4 linked regions of the Homo sapiens genome follow. The protein of the gene in region 1 interacts with the protein of each later gene in a pairwise test. Each region holds a gene or a part of one and is shown on either strand. Other genes may lie near its edges.

What was found.
Region 2: the proteins of CCDC136 (region 1) and FAM107A interact in binary tests that used the Homo sapiens proteins (3 or more experiments, as listed by UniProt).
Region 3: the proteins of CCDC136 (region 1) and ASB7 interact in binary tests that used the Homo sapiens proteins (3 or more experiments, as listed by UniProt).
Region 4: the proteins of CCDC136 (region 1) and ZSCAN26 interact in binary tests that used the Homo sapiens proteins (3 or more experiments, as listed by UniProt).

What each region holds. Positions count from the first base shown.
Region 1 is NC_000007.14:128,788,005-128,794,989, reverse strand, and holds the start of CCDC136 (coiled-coil domain-containing protein 136), read right to left. Parts: upstream 3,023-6,985; 5' UTR 2,671-3,022; coding exon of another isoform or gene 2,579-2,670; coding exon 2,563-2,578; intron 643-2,562; coding exon 388-642; intron 297-387; coding exon 222-296; intron 1-221. UniProt on the Homo sapiens protein: May play a role in acrosome formation in spermatogenesis and in fertilization.
Region 2 is NC_000003.12:58,567,387-58,574,412, forward strand, and holds part of FAM107A (actin-associated protein FAM107A), read right to left. Parts: exon of another isoform or gene 5,949-7,026; intron 5,405-5,948; exon of another isoform or gene 2,940-5,404; intron 2,480-2,939; coding exon of another isoform or gene 2,475-2,479; coding exon 2,305-2,474; intron 1-2,304. UniProt on the Homo sapiens protein: Stress-inducible actin-binding protein that plays a role in synaptic and cognitive functions by modulating actin filamentous (F-actin) dynamics. Mediates polymerization of globular actin to F-actin. Also binds to, stabilizes and bundles F-actin.
Region 3 is NC_000015.10:100,626,571-100,633,596, forward strand, and holds part of ASB7 (ankyrin repeat and SOCS box protein 7), read left to right. Parts: intron 1-2,866; coding exon 2,867-3,472; coding exon of another isoform or gene 3,473-3,480; exon of another isoform or gene 3,481-3,639; intron 3,640-7,026. UniProt on the Homo sapiens protein: Probable substrate-recognition component of a SCF-like ECS (Elongin-Cullin-SOCS-box protein) E3 ubiquitin-protein ligase complex which mediates the ubiquitination and subsequent proteasomal degradation of target proteins.
Region 4 is NC_000006.12:28,270,133-28,277,158, forward strand, and holds part of ZSCAN26 (zinc finger and SCAN domain-containing protein 26), read left to right. Parts: intron 1-1,721; 5' UTR 1,722-1,787; coding exon 1,788-2,207; exon of another isoform or gene 2,208-2,537; coding exon 2,538-2,655; intron 2,656-5,998; coding exon of another isoform or gene 5,999-6,062; coding exon 6,063-6,964; 3' UTR 6,965-7,026. UniProt on the Homo sapiens protein: May be involved in transcriptional regulation.

The sequences.
Region 1 (6,985 bases):
GGACAGAAGAGCCAGGTAGATGTGCAAAGAAAGAAAACTGGGGACAGAGGAGGATGGAGAGACAAGGAGAGGAAAAGGGTGAGACTAGTAGAGGAAAATGAGGTGAAATTACTGAATTTGGTTATTTTTATCTGCTGTGCTTCAGTCAAACCCTCAGGAAAAAAGTACTTAGGTGACCACTTGGATGGCCACCTCCCTCCAGTCCAAGTCCTGGGAATTACCTTGGAGCTGCTGGATCTGCTTGGTGAACACCTCTGCCTGCTGGGCGCTGGCTAGCCGTTCATCCTCCAGGAGCCCTGCAGGGAGAGGGGCACCAGTGTCAAGCTCGGATCCAGGGGAGTGCAGAGCCTCTGGGCCCGGGCACTGGGCCCTGGCCCAGGCACTCACCCTGTAGCTCCAAGGAGTCATCCTCATGCTGCCCTGCCAGTTCCCGGGTCTCCTCCAGTTCTGCCACCAGCTGCAGCACCTGAGCCCGCAGCTCCTCCAGCTCTGTCTCCGTGAGGCTCAGTCCCCGGTGCTTGTTGACTGACAGAGAGCCAACACTGCCACCTTTCTGCACTTGTTCTTCTTCTTCTTCCACCTCTTCTTCCTCCTCTTCCTCTTCCTCTTCCTCCTCATAGAGAGCTGGGAGTAACACCTCCCCTAGGAGACACAGCCATCCCACCAAGGAGTCAGCATCAACTTCCTTTCTGCCGTCCTTCCAGGGCCCTCAAACTCACTATGCCAGGGCAGAGATGACATACTAGTGCCACCTGGTGTCCCCCAAGGAGCCCCGGGGCAAGACCTGTACTCAAGATGAGTCCTCAGGTGTGAGAGTCAAGTTGAGAAGCAGCCCCTCCACCTCCCAGGCCCTTCCTGGACCAATGTTGCACTTGGTAGCCTCCTATCACTGCCTGTGGGCAGGCTGGTGCCCGCTCAGCCATGAGACACTTGCACAGGATTACCTGCTTCTTCTAGGCTGGCCTCTGAGTAGCAGGACAAGTAGTCAAGAAAGGAGACAGTGAGCGGATCTTTCGGTCAAATGGGGTAACAGTTACAGTTTGGAGATTTCTTGAAAGTTAAAAAACAAAACAAAACTGACCAGGCATGCTGGCTCATGCCTGTAATCCTAGCACTTTGGGAGGCTGAGGTGGGTGGATTACTTGAGGCCAGGAGTTCCAAACCAGCCCGGTCAACATGGTGAAACCCCTTCTCTACTAAAAATACAAAAAAATTAGCTGGGCGTGGTAGTACACGCCTGTAATCCCAGCTACTTGGGAGGCTAAGGCAGGAGAATCGCTTGAACCTGGGAACTGGAGGTTGCAGTGAGGCGAGATCGAGCCACTGGCACTCCAGCCTGGGCAACAGAGTGAGTCTCCGTCTCAAACAAACAAACAAACAAAAACAACCAAACAAAAACTATCCAGGTGGCTTGTGAAAAATCAGCCTTTCCATAATAAGAAAACATTGCCCGTCAGCAGGTAGAGAAAGAAAATATCTGATTGTAGAGGTTTCATTGGACAAACTCGGGCGCCCTTTCAAATGTATATTATTAAATACCTGTTTGAAATTTTCTACAAGGTCCACCTTGTTTTTCCCTGCTGCATGTCACAAGGTCTCCTCTCCCCTAGCTGAGCCATATGAGGCCCCTCCTACTCTGCTGACCACAAAGTAGATTTCAGGGGAAGTTTTAGGCTGTACTTGTGTGTAAAAGAAAGCCTACCATTTTAATGCATTAAAAAAACTGGGGTTTGGTGCTGGCCCCCAGCCTCTGGTTGTGAGCACCCGCTCCTTTACTGCAACGCAGTCCCTATAAATAGCAAAATGTTGTCTGGATGGTGATTGTTTGCTTTGTTTTAAAATTCTGAATCTCTGGTCTTACTTTATCTAATATCAGCAGCCTTAGGTTCAACTGGGACCCTTCGTGCCATCTGTCCCCCTTAGGGGGAGCAGGTTTGCCCATACTGAATGTGCAACGTGCAACACTTCACAGGAAGTACTGGCAAATGGACCAGCGTCCTTCCAGGGGCCTGGTGTTGGCAGCAACTGCCAAGTCACATGGGTGTGGTGGGGATACACGTGTGTTGGGAGGATGGCCTCACGCGCCCCCTCCTAGGCTCTCTCTTTCAGGCAATAAGGTATCCTAAAGAACCAAAGCCACAGGCTTCCATTCGAAGTTAATGTTGGTGGCCCCAGAAAGACAATTCACATGCCCAGTTCCTTGCTTTTTAAAATAAGAGACAGCTTGGGATCTGGGTCGGCAGGCAGTGAGGACAAACCCCCTGCTGAAAGGCTGCTTCAAAGCTCTGTCCAACAAGGCCTCTTTCTCTGTCTGGCAGCTCCCTCGGGACACATAACCTGGTTAGCTGGGGGGTGATTGGGGTCCCGAAGGGATGCATCCTGAACTTCTGTCAAAGCCTGAGCCCTGGGAAGGGCTGGAGCTCTGAGCTGCAGGAAGAGGGGCTAAGATGAACTGAGGGAAGGGCTGTGTCCTGGCTCAGAGGCCTGGGGGTCAGAGGGAGGAAAGAAGGGAATTAAGGGAGGAGGGGAGGGGAAAGAAAGAAGCCTTTTGGGAAAACTCACCCTCCATAGCTTGCATCCCCCGTCGTTCCAGGGACCCCCAGCGTTGGCCCTTCTTCCTCTCACAGCCCTCGGAAGCCTCATAGGAGCCTAGAGTGGTCACTGTGGGTCCTGAGAGCAGGGAGAAAGGAGGGGCTGGGGGGTGGGGGGCTGGCTGCGGGCTGGGGTGCAGAGGAAAGAAGGGGACATGTCTTCCAGCTCCTCGAGGCTCTGGGATCTGTAATCCCAGTGGAGGTGCCTGACTCACTCTGGCGGCTCTGCGACTCCTCTCTCTCGGCCACCTCTCAGCCCTGCCTCCCAGCCTCCTCAGAACCCGCTGTTCCAGGACCCTCTTGCTTGCACAGAAAGAAAGAGGGGGTGTGCGTATTTAGTCCGGGGGGACAGGGAGGAGAGGGCCAAGACTGAAAGAGGGCGGGAGCCAGTGAAGAAGAGGCTGAAAGGCTGAGGTGGCCTACAGATGGAGGGAGGGAGGAGTGGGGGGCGTGCGGGAAGGGGTAGGGCTGCGACCGCTCCCCTCCCCTCTCCTCCCATTCTCTCGCTGGACCTTGCCCACCCCACCCTCGCCCCGCGCTCAGGAGTCTCCGGGGCTGCAGGAGGTGTAGGGTCTGCAGTCCCGAAGGCTGGAAGCACCGTCGGACTGAAGTGGAGAGACGCGCTGGGGAGGGACCACCAGGCAGGATGCGGCCGGTGCGCGGAAGCCTCAGTCCCAGGCCGGAAGGATGGAGACCGGGCCCCGGTGGAGGCCAGGATGGAGGGAGGAAGACTTTGGGCGGAGAAAGGGGAGCCGCGGAGGCCGGGAGCACCTGGGGGTCTGGAAGGAGGAGGGATGGAGGAGAGAAAGGAGGGGCGGTAGACAGGTGACGGAGGGGCGGCTCTGACCTGGGCCCGGGCAGCTCCAGCCCGCGGCTCCCGCGCCGGCTCCGGCGCCCGCCTCCATGACCGCTCCCGCCGCCGCCTTCCGCCTCCCTGAGCAGAAGCCGCAGCCGCGAGCCCGGGGACCCGAGCCGGGTGCGCAGGGAGGGAGGGAGGGCGGACGAGGGGGCGGGGCCTGGCCGGGCCTCCTGACACCGCCCCCCGCCGCTCGCCGCCGCCCGGAAGCCCTCCCAGCACTCGGGAGCTCCGAGCCCGTGCAGGGGGCGGCGCGGGAGGGTGAGCGCGACCCCGGATACGCCCCAAGGCTCTCCCCTAGAGAGCGCGGGGAGCCGCGGGGCCCGGACAGCGTCAGGAGCTCCTAGGCTTATGGCTGCCCCAAGAGGGAGGAGCGAGATCCCCTGGTTCTGGCGGCGGGTCCCCCCGGGGTCTGCTGTGCCCAGGGACCCTTCTGCACCAGGTGTCAGGGCCCGGTCATGCTCAGCAATGGGGACGGCAAAGGACGAGGTGGGACTGTTTCCTCCAAAAGCGCAGACACGCGCGCCCCTCCTTCCCTCCCTCCCCCGCCCGGCCGGCGCCCCCACCTAGCAGTCCGCGCTGACTCCGGCCCCAGGCCCTGCCCACCCCTGCCCGGTGGCCCCTCGGCAGCCTGGGGGCCGGAGGAGGGAAGTCGAGGCCCGGATGGGCGAACGGCAGGGCCCTGACCTCTCCGCTTTCCGCGACCCCCCACCGAGCCAGGGCCAAGGACCCTCTTAGGAGGAGCCCTCCGGTGGCCCCATCAAGCCTCAGGGCCGGAAGACCCCCTCTCCTCCGCCCTGTCTTCCCTTCCGGTCCCACACCCGGTGGGCTGCGAGCCACGCCCCCACAGTAGCCCGCTCAGAGTGGGCACGACTGATGTTCACTCTCGTGGAAGGGAGATTTGGAAGCCCAGGGGGCTTATTTCACGTCTTCAACCATTCGTTTATTCAGGCTATGACTACTGGGTGCCGGCTCTTGAAGAGGCAGTTCTCACATCTCGGCAGGTCTCGGCAAGGATAGAAGTGGGCACAGTTGGGAACAGGGGCTCCCCAGCACATCCAGGAAATGGCTGGAAGATTCCTAAGCCAGGGACACACGCGGATCCCCTCTCTGGCACATCCACTCACAGGTCGAGGGCTAGTATTGTCTGCGTTCCCCCCGCTGCAGGAAAGGGATCCGGATCCAGACCGCAACAGAGGGTTCTTGAATCTCACGCAAGAAAGAATTCAGGGAGGTCCATAGGATAAACTAAAAGCAAGTTTATTAGGAAAGTAAAGGAATAAAGAATGGCTACTCCATAGACAGAGCAGCCCCAAGGGCTGCTTTTTTTGGTTATTTCTTGATGATATGCTAAACAAGGGGTGGTTTATTCCTGACACCCCCTTTCAGACAATGTAGGGTAACTTTCTGATGTTGCCATGGCATTTGTAAACTGTCATGGCACTGGTGGGAGTGTAACAGTGTGAGGATTACTAGAGGTCACTCTCACTGCCATCTTGGTTTTAGTGGGTTTTGGCCGGCTTCTTTACTGCAAGGTGTTTTATCAGCAAGGTCTTTATGACCTGTGTCTTGTGCCAACCTCCTATCTCATCCTGTGACTTAGAATTCCTTAAACGTCTGGGAATGCAGCCCAGTAGGTCTCAGCCTCATTTTACCCAGCTTCTATTCAAGATGGAGTTGCTCTGGCTCAAATGTCTCTGACATCCCACAGGCTCCCACGTCCACAAGCCATCCCTGTTCCACGGGAAGGAAGCCCTTCTTTGCCTGGACTTCCCCCTCCTTTTCAGCTGGGGGTCACCTCCAGGTGGCCTTCTCTGACTGGCACCCCATCCCTGCCCCACTAGGCGCTTTTGTGGTGCTCGCCCCTATTTGTCTGTAACAGCACCAGGCCCTCCGGGTTGTCCGGGCTCTGCCCAGTTTCCTGAAGGTTAGGGGGATCTTAGTTATCTTTGTATTTCCAGCATCTGACAGAGTTTCTGACACAGGATAAATGAGTTAAAGGTCAATCTCCCAGCTACCCAGTTAATGCCCTGTCTTATCATTTAACATGATTTCATATTTGTGGTGTTAAATGTTGCCTATTAATGATGATGTTGCCCATAAGTCTCTCTCCCTCCCCCAACTCCTTGCTCCTTTTTTCTTCCTCTGCCTCTCTCATTATCTCAGCAGAGAGATGATGAGCAGAGATCAAGAATGTTTTCTTTGCTCCCAGATGACAAGATTCTACTCCAGATCCTGTGGCCAAGGTGACACAGTTGTGGGGAAAGTTGAACAAGCCCACCCAGACCCCTTCTGCAGAGGGTTTACTGCAGACGCCAAGCCTGTCCAGATTTGGGGAGCAGAGCATTTGTCAGGGGTGGTAGAAAGGGGCTGCACTGGGGGCTTGAGGGATGCAGTGCTCTGGGAACTGGCAAAGACTAGTTCTGGAAGCTTACTGGCTGTTCTTTCTGCCCAGCGCAGCTCCTCCTGGTTCTGCCTCCGCCAGCAGGGCCACGTTAGCGGTTGGCCTTGACTGCTGACCTCTTGGTGAATGTAGGGAGGCACAGCAGGGAAATTGTCGATGGTGACATCCAGGGTTCAAGCTCTCCTCAGGGAGCTCTGATCCTGAGTATTAGGACTAATCTCTCCCTGGCTCCTGGCATGCAGGTCACCTTTCACCCTTGATTTGGGAGAACATTTAAGAGAGACCTGAACCAGTCTATTTTCAGGAGCCAAACTTGGTCAAACCCTGGCCAGACCAGTACTGGGTTGAGGGCGGAGGGAGGCAGTTAAAAGGCGGGAGAAAAGAGCTTAAGAGATATGAGGGAGGTGGGCTGTGGTCCAGAAATGCATCTCTGAGGGGCCAGGAGTGGTGGGCATGTCAGCCAGGTGATCAACCTAGGGGGATGATCTGAATTAATCCCTGTAATCCCTGGACTCAGGGCTCAGCCTCCCTCCTAATCCCATCCCAGGAGATCATCCTCTTTGAGGACTGATGTAGCCATTTATCCCCCTTTACCCTTATTTCTAAATGCCTAGATCCTTTCATTAAAAAGAAAAAAAATATGAGTATTTGAAACATGCAGAAAAGTATGGTACAGAGAATAACGTAACAAATAACCATGCACACAGAACTGAAATCCTACAACCAGTCAGATCTTGCCACATTTGATTCAAGGTAGCCCTCTATTTATGGTTTTCCAGTTTTACCTGTATGTATGTTTTACCTTTTATGAATGTGTCTACCAACAATACATAATTGCGACTTGTGTGTTTTAGAAATTTATGTAAATAGTGTTATATTGTACACATTTTTCTGCAAACTTTTTTTGTTTTTTTTTTTTTTTGCATTTATCCATGTTGTTTCATATAGCTCCAGTTTATGAATTTTAACTACTGAAAACTCTTTCATTGCTTGAATTCACTGCAATTTATCCATTTTTCGGCTGATTGACATTTTGACTGTTTCCAGTTTTCCATATTAAAAACAGTGCTGCACTTGACAATTTCATGCATTCTCCTAGGATGGATACCTAGAAGTGGAATTTCTGGGTCATAG
Region 2 (7,026 bases), on another chromosome or scaffold:
GTCAGGAGACCATCACCTTCCCGCTTCCCCCAGCCTCAGGGCTGCTTCCTGCGGTGACACCAACCCCCATTATTATCTTGTGCAATCCTCCCTGTAGCCTTGGAGGTGGACCCATTACTGTCCCATTTTACAGGGACAGAAACTGAGGCTCCTAGGGCTGAAGATACCAGTCCAAGACATAGCTACAGGTAGGCCACATGAGGATTTGAACCCAGGCCTGTTTGACTGCAGAGACCAAGTTTTATGTTATTTCTGGTTATTTTCTTAGGATACTTTCCTAAAGGTAGAATTGCTGGGTCAGGCTCTTTAAAAAGATTTGAGGTACATATATCTATCTGTGCCTGAGAAAGGTTATCCAGTGTATCCTCCTCTGAACAGTGTACAAGAGCATCTATTTCTCCCCACCATCACCAGCCAATCTTTTCATATTTGAGAATCTGGTAGGCCAGAAAGAATATCTGCTTTTCATTTGTTTCTTTATTAGTCACATGGAACAACATTTGATATGTTTACCAGCCATTTGCATTTCTTCTTTTGTGAATTAACTGTATTATCAATATTATTTTTACAGACAAGGACTTGCTCTGTTGCCCAGGCTGGAGTGCAGTGGTGCAATCATAGCTCACTGCAGCCTTGAACTCCTGGGATCAAGTGATCCTCCTGCCTCGGCCTCCCAAAGTGTTGGGATTACAGGTGTGAGCCACCATGTCTGGCTGTACTGTATTACTTTTTATTCATTTTTTCCTTGTCCATTGTAAGAGATCTGGGCCAGGCACAGTGGCTCACGCCTGTAATCCCAGCACTTTGGGAGGCCGAGGAGGGCGGATCACGAGGTCAGGAGACCGAGACCATCCTGGCTAACACAGTGAAACCCTGTCTCTACTAGAAATACAAAAGAATTAGCCGAGTGTGGTGGCGGGCACCTGTAGTCCCTGCTACTTGGGAGGCTGAGGCAGGAGAATGGCATGAACCTGGGAGGTGGAGCTTGCAGTGAGCTGAGGTCGCGCCACTGCACTCCAGCCTGGGCGACAGAGCGAGACTTCATCTCAAACAAAAAAAAAGAAAAAAAGAAAAAAAACAAGAGATCTGAATTTTTTTTTGTATATGTGAGTTTTAAAAATAAAATTTATTTATATTACAAATACTTTCTCTGATTTGTCTTTAAGCTTTTGTTTTTGATTGTGGTGATGTTTTTTGATATTAAAGGGACGAGTCTAAAAACCATTCAGAGAAAATGCTCATATTATAATACTAATTGAAAACAAAAACAAAAGCGACTCAGTGTACAAAATGATAACTGTTAGGATATTGGTCACACAACTGAAAACAAGAATAGAAATCACAACCGGCTCTAATACCAGAATCGGCCAGCAGAGGGCGCTCTGAAGGCACCGCTGCGTTCACGCTGTTACTGGTTAGCAGGAGTATTTCCCAGTCCTCCAAGGGGAGGCTCAGCCTTCCTCTTCTCCAATTCACATCCCATCAATTGCCCCATCCCACCCCTGCCACCTCCCAGATGCCCCTCTGGCTCGTCTCTGTCATTGCACACCACGGCCTTCCACGGAAAAGCCAGCCACCATCCTGGGCCTCTGTAACATTCCTGCCCACTTTGGTATTGTGAGCTCCCCCATCCCACCTCACCAGACGGGCCCACCACACCTTGTGCCCCTGCTGTAGACCTTTCCTTAGTCCATCCTTCTGCCCTGGCCTGCACCACGCAATCGATGCCCCAGGCACAGTGAGTGACTCCTGTTTCCTGTTCATTTACATATGAGGTTCCCTCTGCCATCCAGCACCCACCTCCGGCCTGGCTAACTCCAGTCCCCCTTCAGGTCATAGCTGAGGCAGCACCGCTCCTGTGAAGTCATTTTAGACCCCTCTCGGGTTCCTCCTCTGGGGTCTCAGGCCTATTTATGCCCTCATCAATGCACCCATCCTACTGCCTGGCTATGCACCCGTCCCTGTCTGTGAGGACAGGAACTGGGTCCCATTCATTCTTGTATCCCCAGGTCTGGGCTCAGTGCCCAGCACATAGTAGGTACTCAGTAAATGTATCTGGAGTGTGGGCATGAAATGGGTGGCTGGGCAAGAGAACAGGGCTTTTTGGTCCCTCTGGTTCCCAGGGACCCACTGGGGACAGGGTCTTTACAGGTTTTGCCGGTGATCATGTGGGGCACCTCAGCCTTCCTCAGTCTCCAGGAGCCCCAGGATGAAAGCCAGCTCTGCTTTCCTCCAGGGTCACCTTCCCCATCCCCCACAGGCCCAGGTGCTTGCGGGGCCCAGGCAGCAGGGCTTCATCCCTACCTTCTGTGGTTCATGAGCAGCTCCCGGTGGAGCTCCTGGTGACTCCGAGAGGCCTTCACGGGGTTCAGCAGCTTCTTGGGCTTGATGAGCTCCGGATTCCACTCTCTGTATTCTGGCCGGGCCATCAGGCCCCCAATGTCTGCCCGCTCCCTCTGGATCTCCGAGTACATGGCGGCTGTAGAGATGGGCAGAGGAGTAGCTCAGAGCTGAGCCTATAATCTCACCCTGCCCCATGGGACACAGTTGAAGGGCAAGGTTTTCATGTCAGATGGACCTTGGCCACCTGCTACTGCGCATACCTGGGCAAGCTACCTGACTTTCTGAGCCTTAGTTTCTTCACTTATAAAATGGAAATCATAACGGAACGCATGCACAGGGCTGTCAGAATTGGAGATGATGTTTGCGATGTGTCTGGAGTATAGAAGTAAAATGATAACGGGTCACAAAATACGGGTTGACACATGCATATTTTTGGCCTGGCTTTGCAACAGTTTTCGCCCACTATAAAAGGAATTATGTTTGAGTTTCTGTTTTTCAATGAGCTTGTAACAGAAAAGGAAAATATATTTAAAAAGAGTAACATGTACTTGTTAAAAACAATTTGGATAAATGCAGTGATAAAAAGAAAGTATTACCCTTATTGTCTAACTCTATCCACAGTTCCACAACTGTTCAGCTTTTCATTTTCTTCACATCAAAGAGGAGAGCATGAAATTCAGAGACTGCTGTGTCCCTAATAGCAAAGGGATAGTTGTCAAATGTTTGGCTACTCAATGGCCCCACTTCTACCACAGCGGTTTGAAATCTGTCAGTTTACTTAAAATTCAGACACAAGGGCTCCCTCTTCTACAAACTGGCTCCTTATCCTTGAAATGCCCAAAAGCAAATACAGCAGAGAGAGAGAGAGAGAGAGAGAGAGAGAGAGAGAGAGAGAGAGAGAGAGAGAAAGAGACTGACTTAAAAAAAAAAAGGCCTCAAAGGTATAGACACTGCCTGGCCATTAGCTGCTTATAGGAATTTCAGTGAAAATTTAGACTTTAGCTCTGCTCTCTTCATGAGTCTAGCTTTGCAGAGGTTGAGCTCCTATTATATGCCAGGCCCTGACAGTTGGCAGTGTCTGGTCTGGTATGCAGTAGGCGATCAATACACATTTGTTGGTAATTGCCAATGCAACTTTTGAAGTTTTCTTTGGTCTTGGGGAACCAGTGCCCGGTGGCATGTGATTTTCATGTGGCAACTGAGGGAGTGTGTCCCCATTTCAAACACCAGGCTTCAGCCCCTGCTTGAGGGCCACCATGTTGCCTGTGGACAGACTCTCATTTCCTCCCCCACACTGGGAAGGGGATGAGAACCATTCTCTGCCCAAATGCAGTTTCATGGATGAACAGGGATGTGTGAAAACCTGAAAGTGGCAAACAGCTTATTGGGGTCAGAAAATACAGAGAGGGGGGTTTGACGGGGTGCACGTTGCAAGGTGATATGTCAGGAATCTGGGCATAAAACAGGAGACTGTACTTTGCAACGGTGGCCACCAGACCCGTGTTTGGCATTTCTATGATGACCCATCACAGGCTGCTGTTAGGAGGAGCAAGTAAGACCACATACGTAAAGGTGCTGTGTAACCTGGAAAAAGTGTTAATTATTATAAGGTATTTTGGATGTAGCCAGGTGAAGTGTCAGAGGATAGACATGTTAATTTTTTTCTCAAATTCATATTCTCAGAACCATTTCTGTAATGAGAATTCTTATTAACTTCCCTTTTTTTCTCATCTTTTTCATAAGGCTGTTTGCTTTCAGGTTATATCCTTCCTAATTTTTTGGTCCTTAAAAAGTGATCATAATAGTACTTAGAGTTACTTTAAAATGGGCACTCGACAAAATACATAGTTGGCTGTATCAGCTCCCACTCCTTAGTGTGGGTATTTTATTGTCTGTGGGATCAAGCTCTCTGGGTGCTTACGTATTAGAACACCTGGATTCAGATTGGAGCTTTGAGATCTTCTCTCTTTTGCTGCCTATTCCTATTGTCAAGTGTCGCCCATCCTTTGACTGAGTAATTCTCAGCTACGCTCTTTCCTTCCCGTGACCTCAGCTCTCTTCCTGTTCAGCTCATGCCACACTTTAATAACTACTTTGGCTCCCCAGCTATTCACCTGTTCTTAGTCCCTCTGTGCCCCCCAAATCTTCCAGAGCTGCTTGCTTTTCATCAGCCACACCATCCTTAAAAGAACTCACTGTATGTTGCCAAAGTGATAAGGTAGGAAATAGAATAAGTTGGATAACTTTAGGAAAGGAGATGGCAGCCTTAATATTTGTATAGATAAAGCCATACACCCAGAATTCCCACATGGATGAACAGAAACGCATTTGAAACTGAGAGAGTTCAAGAATGTGGCCAGATACAAAATAAGTACACAAAATCAAGAGCTCCTGAGTAACGGGAATGACCACTGAGAAAGTGCGTAATAATAAAAATAGTCATGCATTCCACACATGTTCGAGTTCCTGTGATTTTCCTGGCACTGTGGTAGACACTGGACACACAGAGGAGAACTAAACAAGTGAGATCCCGGCGCTCACAGAACCCACACTCTGCTGGGGAGGCCAACAGTCAGCACACACACAAGCCAATGAAAACGAAAGACCACAAAAGGCTCCAGGCTCCCATAGAGACTAAGGAGGGACCCGCTGTCAGCCAGGTGTGGTGAGGGCCTCTCTGAGGAGGCGACATTAAGATCTGACAGTTGAGAATGAGGAAGGAGGCCATTTGGGGCCTAGGGAACAGCATGTGTGACTCATGTACCTTGAACAAGCTGGGTCTGTTCAGGGAACAAAAAGACATAGTGTGCTGGGAGTGGTGTGAGCTGAGAGACTGGGAGAGCGCCTGGAGTGAGGGTGGACGGGTGGGTTCAAGTCGGGGAAAGGCGCACCTGATTCAGTTATAAAAAGGTTATTCTCGCTGCTGTGTGGGGAAACCATCAGAGGCCTTGGGATGTTTTGACTTTGGTTTCCTTCACTTCCAATGGGTGGTCTCTGTCTCTTCTGTTAACTTCCAGGGGAAAAATCTGTGATTGACCTGGCTGAGACCTTCGCCCCATACGTAAGTTGCCGGCCAGCCAGTGGGTTGGCTGCCCCAGGGCCAGACGGTCGGACTCAGTCACACAGGGTTGCCCTTGGAAGAGGGGCCCTGTTTGGTTTGACCTTCTGTTGTTGTTGTCTTGAAATTCCAAATGCATTTTGAACAAGTGGCACTCCTTTTTTATTTTGCACTGGGCCCTGTCAATTATGAAGCCAGTCCTGCACCCCAGCTCCAATCTGTGGTCAGCCCTGGCTCAATGACTTGCTCCAGGCCTTAAAAAAAAAATTAATTAAATCAGCAGTGAGCTGTGGATGATGGTATTTCCCTGAGGCCAGGCTGGTGTGGTGGGTGAGGCAGGAACCCTGAGGGATGTGGCTGGTGCCTTAGCTCAGAGCTGCAGGGGAAAAACCATCGCCTTTGCCACTCAGGGTGCTGAACCCCAGCAAACAACCCCTGTGAGATCCACGTATACACCTATGAGGGGTGGGGTGAGGAGGGTTGCTGGGGACCCCCAGGACTTAGAAAGCTGAGCCAGCCTTTCTGCCTTTTAATTTATTTAACCAAGGTCTCTGGGTGGAAGAACCTCATGCAGGTCCTGTTATAAAAGAGACTACTCAATAAAGCACAGGTGGCAGGCCAAGAAAATCCAGGCTGTCTTGGGCGGTCAGCTGGGCCTCCTGAGGCAGAGGACTGGGGTTGTTCCCAAGGCTTCTGGGCATCCCGAGAGATCCAAGACTCTGGGGTCCATCCGGGGAGTGGCTGTGGAGCAGCTAAGAGGGGAAGTGGGCATTAGACATGTCCTCTCTGGAAAGAAAAAGGTGAACACCCAGGAGAAGAGCTAGCAGGGAGAAGGAGGAGCGGGCCAATCACGAAGGAGAAAGGTAAGTGGCTTGTTTGTATTCTTCATGGCTGTTAAAGAAATGCAGGAGGAAGCAGTAGCATAGGGAGGCTGAAGCCATTCAGACTTGCATTCGAATGTCAGCTCTGTCCATGCCTCCCTACCCTCTGGAGCTGGAGCCTGGAAACTACAGCCTTTGGACCAAATCCCACAGCCCTGGGACACACCACGCCCACTTATTGTCTATGGCTGTTTCCCACTGAACAGCAGAGTTGAGATGGGACAGCTGCTTTTGATCTGGTGTTTCCTCCTCTGCAAAATGAGCGTTACATTAGAATCCTCCTCCATGAACTTGTGATATCATAAACGAGGTGATACTTGCAAGGTGCTTGGCAAATGCCTCGTACAGAGTTGAGCGCTTGGGGCTGGCTACCAGGGCTGCCACATACAACAGGCTGGTTGGGTACCTCACAGCAAGTCCTCAACTCCTATAGATTAAACTGTGAATGGTGCCCCTGGAATGGCAGTGTGACCACCCTGTTAGCTGCTATTAACAATCACTATTAATAAATCCCATTCCTAGTCCTAGATGGAGCCTTCTCATCCTCAGAAACCACACTGGTTAAATCAGTGGATCTTAACTTTGGCTGCATATCGGCATCACCACAGGAAGTTTCAAAAATTCCAGTGCCTGAGTCCCACCACAGGGATTCTGATTTAATGGGTTTGGGGGGCGGCTTGGCTTTGGGGATTTTTAAAAGCTCCCTAGGTGATTCCTAGAGTCAGCCAACTTTGCAAACCATGG
Region 3 (7,026 bases), on another chromosome or scaffold:
CTCGTGGGTATTGAACCCAAGTGAGATGAAAACACTCTGTCCCCCTCTCCTTCTCTCTCTGTCTCTCTCTCTCTCTGTCTGTCTCTCTCTCATATATTAATTCATGATAGTGTTATTCAAATAGGCTCAAATTGGTAAGAACTGAAATGCCCATCTTCTCATCAATTGATTAAAAAAACTATATAGTATACAGTACTATCCAGCAATACAAAAGAGTGAACTGTCGATACAACATGGAAGTATGGCGGAAACATCATGCAAAGTGAAGTAAGTCAAACACAGAAGTCTACATATGATTCTATTAATATGAATTTCCAGAAATGACAAAACTTTTTTGACCAGTGGTTTGCCTGGGACCCAGAGTCTGGGAAGGGCTAAAGAGAGATGAAGGAACTTTTTGAGATGATGGAATGTTCTATATTTTAAATAGGGTGGTGGGTTATATACTCGTATACAGTTATCAAAGCTCATCATCTGTACCCTTAAAGTGAATGCATTTTACCTCAATAAAGCTGTTAGAAAAAAAAAAATCCCCTCATATTCATAGGTAATGTTTCTTTGCTTCTGTTTATATACATTAAATTTTTTTCTCGTAAATTTAAATGAACTTGTTGAGATTATGCTACAGCTTATTTAAAATAAGTTCCACCTGGGGAGAAAATGTTTGCTAAGGGGACAAAGTAATAAGTTCAGTGGGGTTGCTGTTTTAGATGAAATGTTTAGGGAAGGCTTTTCTTTTTTTGATAAAAGGACATTTGAGTGGATACAGAGTGACATGAGTTCACTTAATGTTTTCACGTCTTGTCCATTTCTTACTGAATTTCTGTCTAGGCGTTTTGTAGTTTATGTTGCTATTACAAATGAGATATTTTTCTTACCTTATTTCATGGGCTAATAATCTTTAAATTACATTTGTTTGCATTTTCATTGCTTCTAATCTCCCATTTGATTTTAACAGAGACTATGCAGGTCATTGTTGTGTGTGTTAATCTCTGTTTTTCCTTAGCTCAGTGTAGCTTCAAAATGTACATAGAACCTGAAAGAGACCTGAAATGGAAACCAAAGATGCAAGTGCAGTGTTTTGTAACATAATTTTAATTTTACTGTCAAATAGAACGAGTATAGGATACAAATAAGGATGGTGGCTGAAGGGTGGGAGAAGTGAAAAGAAGGTATTCTTAAATTTCACTTGCAGATTAAGAGGGAATGTCTGCCAGCAGTTGACTGGCCAGGTATAGATTAGAAATGACCTCTGGCAAGATGTTTTGTTTCATTTGAATGGGAGGGCATCTTGTAGATTTCACGCCTGACTTTGAACTTCTGGTAAGCGATGCACCTGGAACCGGCTTGAGTGACTTAAGGGCTCAGCAGTATCTGCCCGGTGGAAACATTAGTGTCATGCTCATGCCTTACCAGCAGATGGCAGCAAAATGCTGTGTTAAAATGTTCTTACCCTACTTAAATTTAAGTCCTGTGGTAAACAGATACTGTATATTTTTCTTTCAGTTAAGACCAAGGTAGATATAATGCCCTTATTTCCCCTAAATAGATACAACTAATACTACCATTGTGTACTGACACTTTACAGTAAATGTTTTTAGAAATCTACATGATATGGCTTACCTAAAAACATCTTATTTTGTATAGGTTTTGTTAGCAACTCCTTCACTGAAATACTTTCCACAGTATTGTTATTTTACATATAGTTTTCTGCCTCAGATTTTTCTAAGAGAACCATTTGTCATAATATGTTCTAGACCTAAATAACGTTTATTAAACAATACGTGAGTTTTCACTCACCTGTGGAGGCTGTGTGTGTGTATGTATGTGTAGGTGTGTGTGTAAAACATTAATGATTTTTTTCTTTTATTAACAAGCCAAAAATTAAGGTGACTTTTACAAGAGAGCATTTTCATCCTGGGTAGTTAGGTCTGATCAATTGATCTTTTACATGGAATTGCTGACTTCTAGGAGGTGCCCGGCATAACCAGTCCTCGTCCGTCTTCTGCCCCCAGCCAGGGATGCCATGGGGTGAACGCCATCAAGAACCAACCTTTGGCTTAATGAAAGATCTGAGGCCAGTGACAAAAGACTGTGACTTGAGTCACATAGCAGATAAATTATTATAGTTGTTTTTCCTTCCCCAGAGATCAGTCAATTAGGAGAGGTTTTTGGAACTGTTTTAGAAAATATTTTTACAATGCTGAGGTTATTCACATAATGCATTGCTTAATTCTTATAAACTCCAAAGTTCGTGTAAAACTAAGAATTCAGAATAGACTTCTATCTTGTGAAAAAACAATTTGTCAAGATTACTTGACATATATCTGAGATGCTTTGGAATTTTTACAGACCACAGAAAAACTTTTTTTTATTACTTAATATACCCTAAAACAACACGGTGTGCCAGAGCATAGTGTATCTGTAATTTAGAGCAGCAGATGTTGCTACACATGCTTCTCTTTAAGACCGAGAAGAAGCACAAGAGAAAATAAAACAAAAAGTTCAAAACAGAAGAGAAACATGAAACAGTGCAGAGATGAAGGAGTTGAGTAGCCAGAGGCAGTTGGTTAAATTAGCAAAGACAGGGGATGTGGTGATCTGTACTCCGTGTTTTTTGTGTATATCTTTTTAAACACTTTGTCTTTCTCCTTTCATTAACCCAGACGTGATAACATTCTACAAAATTTATTTTCCATTAAAACCAGACTTGAATTAAACTGAGGAAAAACGTACTTGATATTCATTACAGTGTTTGGTTGCTTCACATTTTATATGAGAATTGGCCACAGTTTGCTGTGCCATGGTAATGTTTGTTGTTTTGTCTTGGAGTCTGCTAATACTTTCATTTTGGTTTTAACTCCAGCTGATCCTACAGTTAAAGACTTAATCGGAGGCTTCACGGCTCTTCACTATGCAGCCATGCATGGCCGGGCCCGCATTGCACGCTTGATGTTAGAATCTGAATACAGGAGCGACATCATTAATGCAAAAAGCAATGACGGCTGGACTCCCCTCCATGTGGCTGCCCACTACGGCAGGGACTCATTTGTCCGGCTCCTCCTGGAGTTCAAGGCTGAGGTTGACCCACTCAGTGATAAAGGTACCACACCGCTTCAGCTCGCCATTATCCGAGAGAGGTCAAGCTGTGTGAAAATCCTCCTGGACCACAATGCCAACATCGACATTCAGAATGGTTTCCTGTTGCGATACGCCGTGATCAAAAGCAATCACTCTTATTGCCGAATGTTCCTTCAGAGAGGGGCAGACACAAACTTGGGTCGCTTAGAAGACGGACAGACTCCTTTACACTTATCTGCCCTTAGGGATGATGTGCTGTGTGCACGGATGTTATATAATTACGGAGCAGACACGAACACACGGAACTATGAAGGACAGACCCCATTGGCTGTTTCAATAAGTATTTCTGGAAGTAGTCGACCATGTTTGGATTTCTTACAAGAAGTCACAAGTATGTAATATAATTATTACTTTATTGCATTTTTTAAAAATTTGCATCTTCTGAGGAGCTTAATGTGTTTTTGCAACTTAAGATGACTAGATATTAATCATTCCTATAACCACTGCTTGGTAAGCGATGCCTCATTCTTCTGAAATAAAAAAAAAACTTTGACTGTATCACAAGATTTCATAAAAATTCAATTGTGTTTCTAAATGTAATAGGGGTAGACAGTAAGAGTGAGGGAAGGAATGGAGAGAAGGACAGAGAGGAGAATTTTTTTTAAATGAACAAAGATCTGTGTTAGAACAAGGCAATTCCTGTTGGTCATAAGGATAATCTTACCTGGCTTCCATTGACTGCAAGTTGAGGAGTTAGAGGGGGAATTTTGGATCTTAGATTCCTTACCTGTGAAAATATCCTAGAATTTGTGCTTTATTGCTAAGTTGTTCACGTTTTAATTGTGGCTTTTCTGCTTCATGAGAGCCCACATGAAATGGAGCAGTGGTGCTGTGTATTTAGGGATACCACTCGTGGAAGTTAAGGATGCTAGAAATTGTTGTAAGAAAATATTTGCAGTGGGAAGTTTGGCACCACTGTCCCTGGACCACATGGCTTCCATTGTATTTGAACGTTTTTGTGTGGGTGCTTTTTTTAAAGCCTGGAAGTGTCTGGCCCACTTTGTGTAGTAACGCGTGCGTCCTAGTTGTTCCTCTGATGGGGTATCAGCTTGTGTGTACTTAGCCATCCTCTCTTGTCAAGCTTCCACGTGACCAGTTGAATGTGTGTCTCATGCTTAATGTCCACCATGAAGCTAAAATCTGTAAACAAAATGGATTTTGCTGTCTGCTGAACTTTTTAATGAGTTCCTTTTTCCTCACTGGTTTTGAGCCTTCGGTCATTATTATACAAGAGGACATATTAACATCCTGGGTACCAGCTACTAGAGGGCAAGGGCTCTACCTGACCTGCTTGTAAGTAACCCACTCTACCCCTTGGAGCGGGCCTTTGGAGTACACATTTGCTTTATGAAGAAACAAAATGTAATTTGAATTTTGCAGATTCATGGAAGAAAAGATGCAATTATTATCACTAATGTTTTCAGACTAAAGCGTAAGAAAAAATCACACTGCTTAGTCTACTTAGTGCTGGCCAGTACCAGTTTCTGTGATGTTGGAAATGGTCTCTCCTTGCTGTCCAGTATAGTAGCCACTGGTCCCATGTGGCTGCTGAGCACCTATTAATGTGACCGTTGCCACTGAGGAACTGAAATTTCAATTTTATTTAATTGCGATTTAAGTTTAAATGGCCACAAGTGCCTGGTGGTTCCTTTGTTGGTCCACACAGATCTGCCTGCCTTGGGAGAGGTATCTGGGGCTGACTGGTGGGTGTTCCATTGCAGAAAGCTTCTGAGACACACAGAAGTCGCCACAGTTGGGAGACGTGATACCCGCAGTGCTGCAGTCCTGCTTGCCTTGTTGTTGTTCTCTCAACTTCTACATTAGAGACTTAGTTATGATGAGTGTGGCCGCCCTTAGGAAGGCATGTTATATACTCACTTAAATGCCTCAGCCCCCTTTTTTAAAATACTTTGTTCAGTGGTTAATGGCATAGACTAGAGCTAGACTGCAAGAGTTTGAGCCTTAACTCTATCCCATGTTAGCTGTGACCTTGGGCAGGTCGCCTAATCTCTCTGTGCCTTAGTGTCCTCACCTTCAAATTAAGATAATACAGGCTTGTTATGAGGATTAAATGAGTTAATATTTATAATGCACTTAACACTTAAAATGTTCTTGTTCTTTGTAATTGTTTTTCAAGGTGAAGTGTGTAACTAATAAAGTGAGGGGGGATTAACAGCGAGGACTGGCTTGCCACCAACAGAGCAAATCTTTAGATTCATATTCAACTCAAGCCTCCCAGTTTCAACCCTGTATACAACTGTCCAGAGTCTGTACATGGAGGCACGCAGCCACGTGGCCGAGAGGAGCCGCTGGGCAGGACAAGCACGTGGGCGGCTGCCGTGTGTCCCTGAGCCCTCAGAGCTGCCCCTAGCAGTGCTGTTGGACAGCAGGAATGTTGAGTTAAAGACTCACATGCACTTTAAAATTTGAGCAGATAGAAATGTCAGTGGGGACTGCCTCTGTCTGTGCTTAGGTTCTCCACTGTACGAGGAGCAGAGCTGTGCGCCTAGGAGGTCCTCAGTAGTCCTGGCAGTCTGGCTGACTGCGCACAGCGAGGGGTGGGGACTGAGGAAGCACAGGCTGCTTTCCTGAGTGCAGGGTCCTCCGTCTGTTAAGGCTCCAGTTGTCCTTTGTCTTCAGGTGCCTCAACATAATTTAGTATTTCTTGACTCTCCAGTGGTGTTTCCTGCCAAAAGCAAATTTGGTGTTTCTGCTTCACCTGTGTGTTCTTTGGCTCTAAATAGGTTTTCTTTTCCTGGTGAACAATATGGGCTAGAAGGAGCAGCTGTGGCTGATGCTCTGGACTGAGCTTTCTCATGAAAAGCAGCTTGAAAGAAGGTTGGTTGGTTCAGGGAGCACTAAATCAAAGCTGAGAGCTTCTTCTAGCCCGCGTGCTGTGGGCACCGCAGCCCCAGGCATCATGCTGTTGGCTTATGATTGGAGATCGCAGACTGCCGAGGTATAAGGACAGCAGAGGGGCCACATGGTGGTCTTCATTCAGGGACATTTTACTCTTCATCACACTGTTTTGCCTAGAAACAGATTATTTAAATTGGAAGAGACCAAAAAAATTATAATACCAGAATTTAAAAACTCCTCTGGCCTTTTGGAAAAATTGCCGTAAAAACTCTGATCTATATAGTGCAAAAAAAAAAAAAAAACAGAGCGCACCCGTGGCTTGGTAATAAACTAACATCTGCTTGTGACTTGTTAGTGCTGAGTAGGGGGAGAGGCCATGAAGAGCTGCTGTTGCTGTTCCCTACAGCCAGCCCGCTGTCCAGCATTCAGACCTCAGAACCTCCCCCTTCCAGGACGTCAGGAGCGCAGCAGGGCCCATCCATGGAGGAGCCACTTCTCTGTGCCCAGGAATGATAAACACAGCTAAGAGGAGCCATAGCACCTGCCTGAATAATGAGCGCCACCTGTGGGAGGAAAGCTGCGTCCTGCTTAGTTGGCAGTGTTTATAAGAAGCCAGTTTTTGGTTTTTTACTTGTAGCCAAAAAAAAAAAAAAAAGAATGGAATGAATAAATTAAAGAGAGAACAGTGAAGGTGTGACCGATGTCAAGTAGAAATGGTAGTGACGGCTGGGCGCAGTGGCTCATGCCTGTAATCCTAGCACTTTGGGAGGCTGAGGCGGGTGGGTCACCTGAGGTCAGGAGTTTGAGGCCAGCCTGGCCAACGTGGTGAAACCCCATCTCTACTAAAAATACAAAAATTAGCCGGGCATGGTGGCACATGCCTGTAATCCCAGTTACTTGGAAGGCTGAGGCAGGAGAATCGCTTGAACCCAGGAGGCAGAGGTTGCAGTGAGCCAAGATTGTGCTACTGCACTCCGGCCTGGGTGACAAGAGTGAAACTCTCTCAAGAAAAAAAAGAGGAAAGAG
Region 4 (7,026 bases), on another chromosome or scaffold:
CGGGGTTTCACTGATAATCATCACTTTCTTGGACTTTTTTACTTATATTAAGAATACTAGGAATTGGCTTTTTAAAGTTTAAGTTCATTTTGACTAAGAAAAATAATTATCAGCTGGGAAATGTTAACTATATACACATTCAGGAATATATAACAGCAAACTGTTTGGAGGCTAAGCCACTGATTAAGTGAGCCTTCTCCCGTTCTCCCACTTACCGCATGCACATTGATTCAAAGGCATGTGTCAGCAGCTGACAGATGGTGTTTCACTGATCTATAGGGATACTCAAGCATAGTCAAAATCAAGAATGCTAAATCCCCACATACCAAGGGCCTGCCCCAAAGGATGGTAGGGAATTGTCTGAGTTCATTTTTGACATGTTGGATTTGAGAGGCTTCTGTAGGGTATCCTGGTCCCAAATAGGCAGAAGGAAATTCAGGTCTGACACTTGAGATATCTGACCTGAAGAATAAGGAAATCATCAGCATAAGGACAGTAATTGAAGTCACAAAAATACTTATACTCTACATTAGCCCTTTCTAGTTTCTGCCCTATCTTTCTTGTTCCATTCAATGTATTACTTTTTTGAAATTTGTCATTTATGCTCACTCTCCATTTTCTCATTTCCTATGGCAGGCTAGCTATTCTCACTACCAAAATTACCTTCACAGAGGTCACTAATGACATCTTTGTTTTTGAATCAAGTGTCTATGCCAGGTCTTAGATTAATTCACCATCTTATAGCATTTCACACTCTTGAACACTGTGCTCATATCATTTCCCTTATAAATCAGTGAATTCCTTCTGTTCTTTAGAATTATCTCATTTACCTCAAAACTTCTGTGAATTAGGTATTATCTTCATTTTACAAATGAGTAAACTAAGTCCAAAAGGATAAGTTACTTGCCCCAGGTCACAACATGTAAGTGACAGGGCTGGATTGGAACCCAGGCCTGTCTAAGGCCCAGGGTCTTTCCACCATTCCACATTTACAGAAATAGACCTCCTTGACCTTCTGGATACTATTGTCTTTTTTCTCCTCCTACCTTTCCAGTTCCATCTCACTTCTGTTTCTTACATGTAGATGTTTCCCAGGATTCCGGCTCCATATAACGTTTTCCCAGCCATAACTAACTACTACACTGAACATCCAACAGCTTTATGGTGTCTTTTTTGTCTGAAAAAACTTTCTCTATTTCCTTGTCTTTCACTTGTCTTTTTTCTTTTCTTTTTCTTTCTTTCTTTCATTCTTTTTCTCTCTTTTCTTCCTTTTTTGATATAGGTCTTGCTCTGGTTGCCCAGGCTGAACTCAGACTCCTGGGCTCAAGCAGTTCTCCCTCCTCAGCCTCCCGAGTAGCTTGGATTACAGGCATGTGCCACCATGCCTGGTGTCACTATGTTGCCCAGGCTGGACTCAAACTCCTGGGCTTAAGCAGTCTTCCCACCTCAGCCTCCCAAAGTGCTGAGATGACAAGTGTAAGCCACAGTGCCTAGCCTCAGTTATTTTGAGGGCTACAAAATGGTGATTTTTCAAATCTATTATTCCTTCTACATTAGATGGTATTCTGTAAGATAGTTTTTTCCTTCTGTATGTATGTTTAGAAATGGTTGTTTTAGAGAGAAAAAATGGATAATAGGAAATGTATAAACCCAAGAAAATGTTACTGTTCTTGTTAGCAGTACTATTACTGTTTCTGTCACTCTTGTTACTATAATTTTAGGAGTGTCTCTGAAGATACAGTCCAAAGAAAGTTCTCCAAAACAAGGAGAACAGTCTGAAGCTGGGGATGGCAACAGCATTGGTGAGTGCCCATTCCCTGGCTCCCCTGAATCTGAAGAAGGAGGGGCTTCGGGTAGTGAGGGAGGATCACTACTCTACTTGGGAACAGGGATTCAAGCTGCAAGGAAACAGTAAAGGCCTTGGACAGGAGCCATTGTGCAAACAATTCAGGCAGTTGCGTTATGAAGAGACCACAGGACCTCGAGAAGCACTAAGTCGGCTCCGGGAGCTCTGTCAACAGTGGCTACAGCCCGAGACCCATACCAAGGAGCAGATCCTGGAGCTGCTGGTGCTGGAGCAGTTTCTGATCATCCTGCCTAAGGAGCTCCAGGCCCGGGTGCAGGAGCATCACCCAGAGAGCAGGGAGGACGTGGTTGTTGTTCTGGAGGATTTGCAGCTGGATCTTGGAGAAACAGGACAACAGGTGGTAAGGGTCAGATGTGCTCTTTTTCAGGAATGCAGGAATTGAGATCTCTGGCCAGACAGGTGGACATGGGCTCATCAGCGGAAGGAGAATTACTAAGCTTTGATTCAGTTTTTTTCCAGTCTAGCTGTTAATTTCCTTAGGTCTTACCTCAACCTTACCTGGCCCTTGCTTGGAGAAAACTGAATGTGCACCAGATTCCCCATCTTCTTTTCTTTGCCCCTCTGGGGTTTCTCTTTCTTCTCTTTTTTAACACCTAGGTGTTTTACTGAACAGCAGTTTCCTAAACCCACATATATCTAATTATGCCTCCATATACCTAATTGTCCCTAGGACCCAGACCAGCCAAAGAAACAAAAAATACTTGTGGAGGAGATGGCCCCTCTGAAAGGAGTACAGGAACAGCAGGTTCGGCATGAGTGTGAAGTTACAAAGCCTGAGAAAGAGAAGGGTAAGAATTGGATTGCATCTTCTGTGTGTGAGACGTGGTGGACTGTGCCTTTCCCTCTGAGGTTGTGCTTAGCACCCTTGTATTTTGTTTTTTGCTTTTGTTTTGAGTCAGGTTTACTGAAGCATAATTTATATGTAGTAAAATTCACTCTTTTTAGATGTACAGGTCAATGAGTTTTCACAAATGCGAAATAATTGTGGTCTAATCAGGACCACTATCAAGAGATAAGAGATATCTATCACCCCAAATATTTTAGCTGAACAAAATAGCAAGAAAAGGGTACAAAGGGAACCTGGACCTTCACCTTGCTCTTCTTCCTCTTACTGTAGGGGTGAATAAAAAAAGCAGTGCCAGGCCAGCTACTTGGGAAGCTAAGGGAGAAGGATCACTTGAGCCCAGTTCAAGGCTGCAGTGAGCAATGATTGTTGCACTGCACTTCAGTCTGGGCAACATCTCTTAAAAAAGCAAATAGTGGCCAGGCATGGTGGCTCATGCCTGTAAACCCAACACTTTGGGGGGCCAAGGTGGGTAGGTATACGAGGTCAGGAGTTCAAGACCAGCCTGGCCAAGATGGTGAAACACTGTCTCTACTAAAAATACAAAAATTAGCCAGGTTTGGTGGCGGGTGCCTGTAATCCCAGCTACTCGGGAGGCTGAGGCAGAGAACTGCTTGAATCCAGGAGGCTGAGATTGCAGTGAGCTGAGATCACGCCACTACACTTCAGCCTGGGCGACACAGCAAGACTCTGTCTCAAAAAACAAACAAACAAAAAAAAAAACAAGTACTGCTAGTTTCTTAATCAAGGCAAAGAAAGCCACATGCTTCATTACTCATTTTTTAACATTTCCTTCAAATTATTGTAAATGGCCACTATCTTTCATTTCTAAACGTCACCTGGATTTTTTTTTTTTTTTGGTTCTATACTTTCTTTTTTGTTGTTTTTCTATTGAGACAGGGTCTTGCTCTGTCTTCAGGCTGGAGTACAATGGTGCAGTCATAGCTCACTACAGCCTTGACCTTCCAGGCTCAAGTGATCCTCCCACCTCAGCCTCCCAAGTATCTGGGACTACCGGTGTGTGTGCCACCACACCTGGCTTTTTATTATTATTATTTGTAGAGACAGGGTCTCCCTCTGTTGCCCTGGCTGGTCTCGAACTCCTGGTCTTAAGCATTTCTCCCATTTGGGCCTCTCACAGTGCTGGCATTATAGGTGCAAGCCACTCGCCCAGCCTCCTTTATTTTCTTTGTCACTGAAATTCTTCTTCCTAATTTTTGCTCCTTACATTTTTTCATTTCTTCTTTTTTTTTTCTGTCATAGAACTAATTACATTATATTGCAGTTTCTAGTTTGCTTCTCTTTTTCTCTTGCCAGACTAAAAGGGAAGGGGTTTTGTTTTGTTTTCTGAGTCAGCTACAGTCCCTGGCCTAGTGTAGACCCTCAATAAATGTCTGTTTGATGAATGACTGGTTTTATATGTAAAATCATGCTTTACATGCTACCTATTCCTCTGTTCAATTTCCAAGTCAGCTTCAAATTACCTTTCTTCTGGGAGCATCCTGAATAAAGTAGCTGAAAGAAAGGGGCCTACCTTTTCTCAATAGCCTTGCAGAAATGAATTAGCCTTGCAGAAATGATTACCATGTAATCAGTGATGGGTGTATAGTTTAAATACAAAAAGTAAATGTGGCTGCTGTAATCCCACTACTTTGGGAAGCCAGAGTGGGAGGATTGCTTGAAGCCAGATGTTTGAGACCAGCCTGGGCAACATAGTGAAACCCTGTCCTCTACAAAAAATAAATAAATAGCTAGGCGTGGTGGCATGCAGCTGTAGTTCTAGCCACTTGGGAGGCTGAGGCAAGAGGATTGCTTGAGCCCAGGAGTTCAAGACTGCAGTGAGCTATGTGATTGCACCACTGTACTCCAGCGTTGGCAACAGAGCAAGACCATGTCTCAAAAAAAGTGAATGTAATGTCAGTAGACTCTTGAAAATGTCCCTTACCCTCTGGATCTGTTAAAAATGTTATTTTATATTCAAAGTTCAGGTTGTTTTTTGGTTTCATCCTCTCTTGCTTTTTTAAAGTTGTATATGTGATTATGTCATTACTGGAAGAGTCTTATTCCTTTCCCTTAATCTCTCACTCTTGCCCCCTGCCCCTGTGTAGGACTGAATACTTCATTCTGTTGTAGAGGGTCTTTGTACACAGTACATTATTACATTATTTAATTTATTCACTCCCCACCTGTGACCTTCCTTTCTCTGATGTCTCCTTACTAATTCCTTCACTTTCACTTTTCCTTTCAGCTGTCATCCACTCTTTCCTTTTTACTTATCTGCTGAATTAACTTGCTCACACTGATTAACCCTCTTTTGTTTGTTATTAGTGCTGCTTAGAGTCTTTCTTCTATTTTCTCCATCCAGCTTTCCTTTTACTCTCTCATTCTGACTTTGCATCCCCAGTCATGCTCCTAGCCTTTGAAGAGTTATCCTTAGCTACAAGAAAAACTGGTAAATAAAAATATAAAATGAAACAAAACAAAAACTTCACATTCTTCTCACCCGTCTGCTTGTGTATCTGAGCTTAAGTTTTCTCTATTTTCATTTAATTTCACCCTTAGGACACAGGCCATTTATTTAGTAAACATTTGTTTAATGTCTGTTATGTACCAGGCTCTGTGCTAGAGAAAACAAAGTCTGCTCTGCATGTGCTTACAGTCTCTTGGGGCATTGTGCATCAGGGGTGCAGGGAGCGACAGACATGAATAAATTATCATAGCGTTGAGATTAAAGCTCTGTTGAACCACACAGGAGAGCAGTTACTGCTGTCCAAGGAGATTAGGAAAGGCGAAGGCATTTTTGTGAACTTCATGTTATTGTCAAGGTCTTATAGTACATTATTCTTTCTTTATGGATGAGGACACAGAGCCCAGATGATTTACCTTACTTTTTTAAGATTACACAGTTAGTGATAAAATTGGGCACCACATCTACATTTCTTCATTTTCAGTTAAAATGTCGTCCCTTTCTTATGGGCCCTGGGGGCCTCAATTAACCTAGCTTTTTTTATTTTCCATGTGACAAGTTATCTTCAAGACTGTACAGCCATGCCCTTTAAGACAGTTTATTTGCTTGCTTGCTAGCTTCTCTGTGTGTGGTATCCCATGATAAAATTTAAACTATTTAAAATAAGTCACCTCCCACCAGAATTCCCCATCTTTCCCCAAAGACAGTCACAGTTAACAATGTCTTGTGTACCATTCTGTAACTATTTTACGCAATCACAAGCATCCACAATGTTTTTACTTTGCACACATGGCTTCATTATATTTTTTTTTCCTTTTAGTTGCAGATTCCTTTCCCCAAGCATCAAAAGACAAGTAATTGGTGGTATATATTTAATATTGCAGGTGAGGAGACAAGGATTGAGAATGGGAAGCTTATTGTAGTAACAGACTCTTGTGGAAGAGTAGAGTCATCTGGGAAAATATCTGAACCCATGGAGGCTCATAATGAGGGCTCTAACTTGGAAAGGCATCAGGCCAAGCCCAAAGAGAAGATTGAGTATAAATGCTCAGAACGTGAGCAGAGATTCATCCAGCACTTGGACCTGATTGAACATGCGAGTACACACACGGGAAAGAAACTCTGCGAGTCTGATGTGTGTCAGAGTTCCAGTCTTACAGGACATAAGAAAGTCCTCTCTAGAGAGAAAGGTCATCAGTGTCATGAGTGTGGGAAAGCCTTTCAGAGGAGTTCACACCTCGTCAGACATCAGAAAATCCATCTTGGTGAGAAGCCTTATCAGTGCAATGAGTGTGGCAAAGTCTTTAGCCAGAATGCAGGCCTTTTGGAACATCTCAGAATTCATACTGGAGAGAAACCTTATCTATGTATCCATTGTGGAAAAAATTTTAGGCGCAGCTCTCACCTTAATCGACATCAGAGAATTCACAGTCAGGAGGAGCCCTGTGAGTGCAAGGAGTGTGGAAAAACCTTTAGTCAGGCCTTACTCCTCACCCACCATCAGAGAATCCATAGTCACTCCAAAAGCCATCAATGTAACGAGTGTGGAAAAGCTTTCAGTTTGACCTCAGACCTTATTCGACACCACAGAATTCATACTGGAGAAAAACCTTTCAAGTGTAACATATGCCAGAAAGCCTTCCGACTAAACTCACACCTTGCTCAGCATGTAAGAATCCACAATGAAGAAAAACCCTATCAGTGTAGTGAATGTGGAGAAGCCTTCAGGCAAAGGTCAGGTCTTTTTCAACATCAGAGATATCACCACAAAGACAAACTGGCTTGATGAGGTGTTCTCTCCTTGTAGAACATCAGAGAAGGCACATTGACTAGCAAACAGCACTTTAG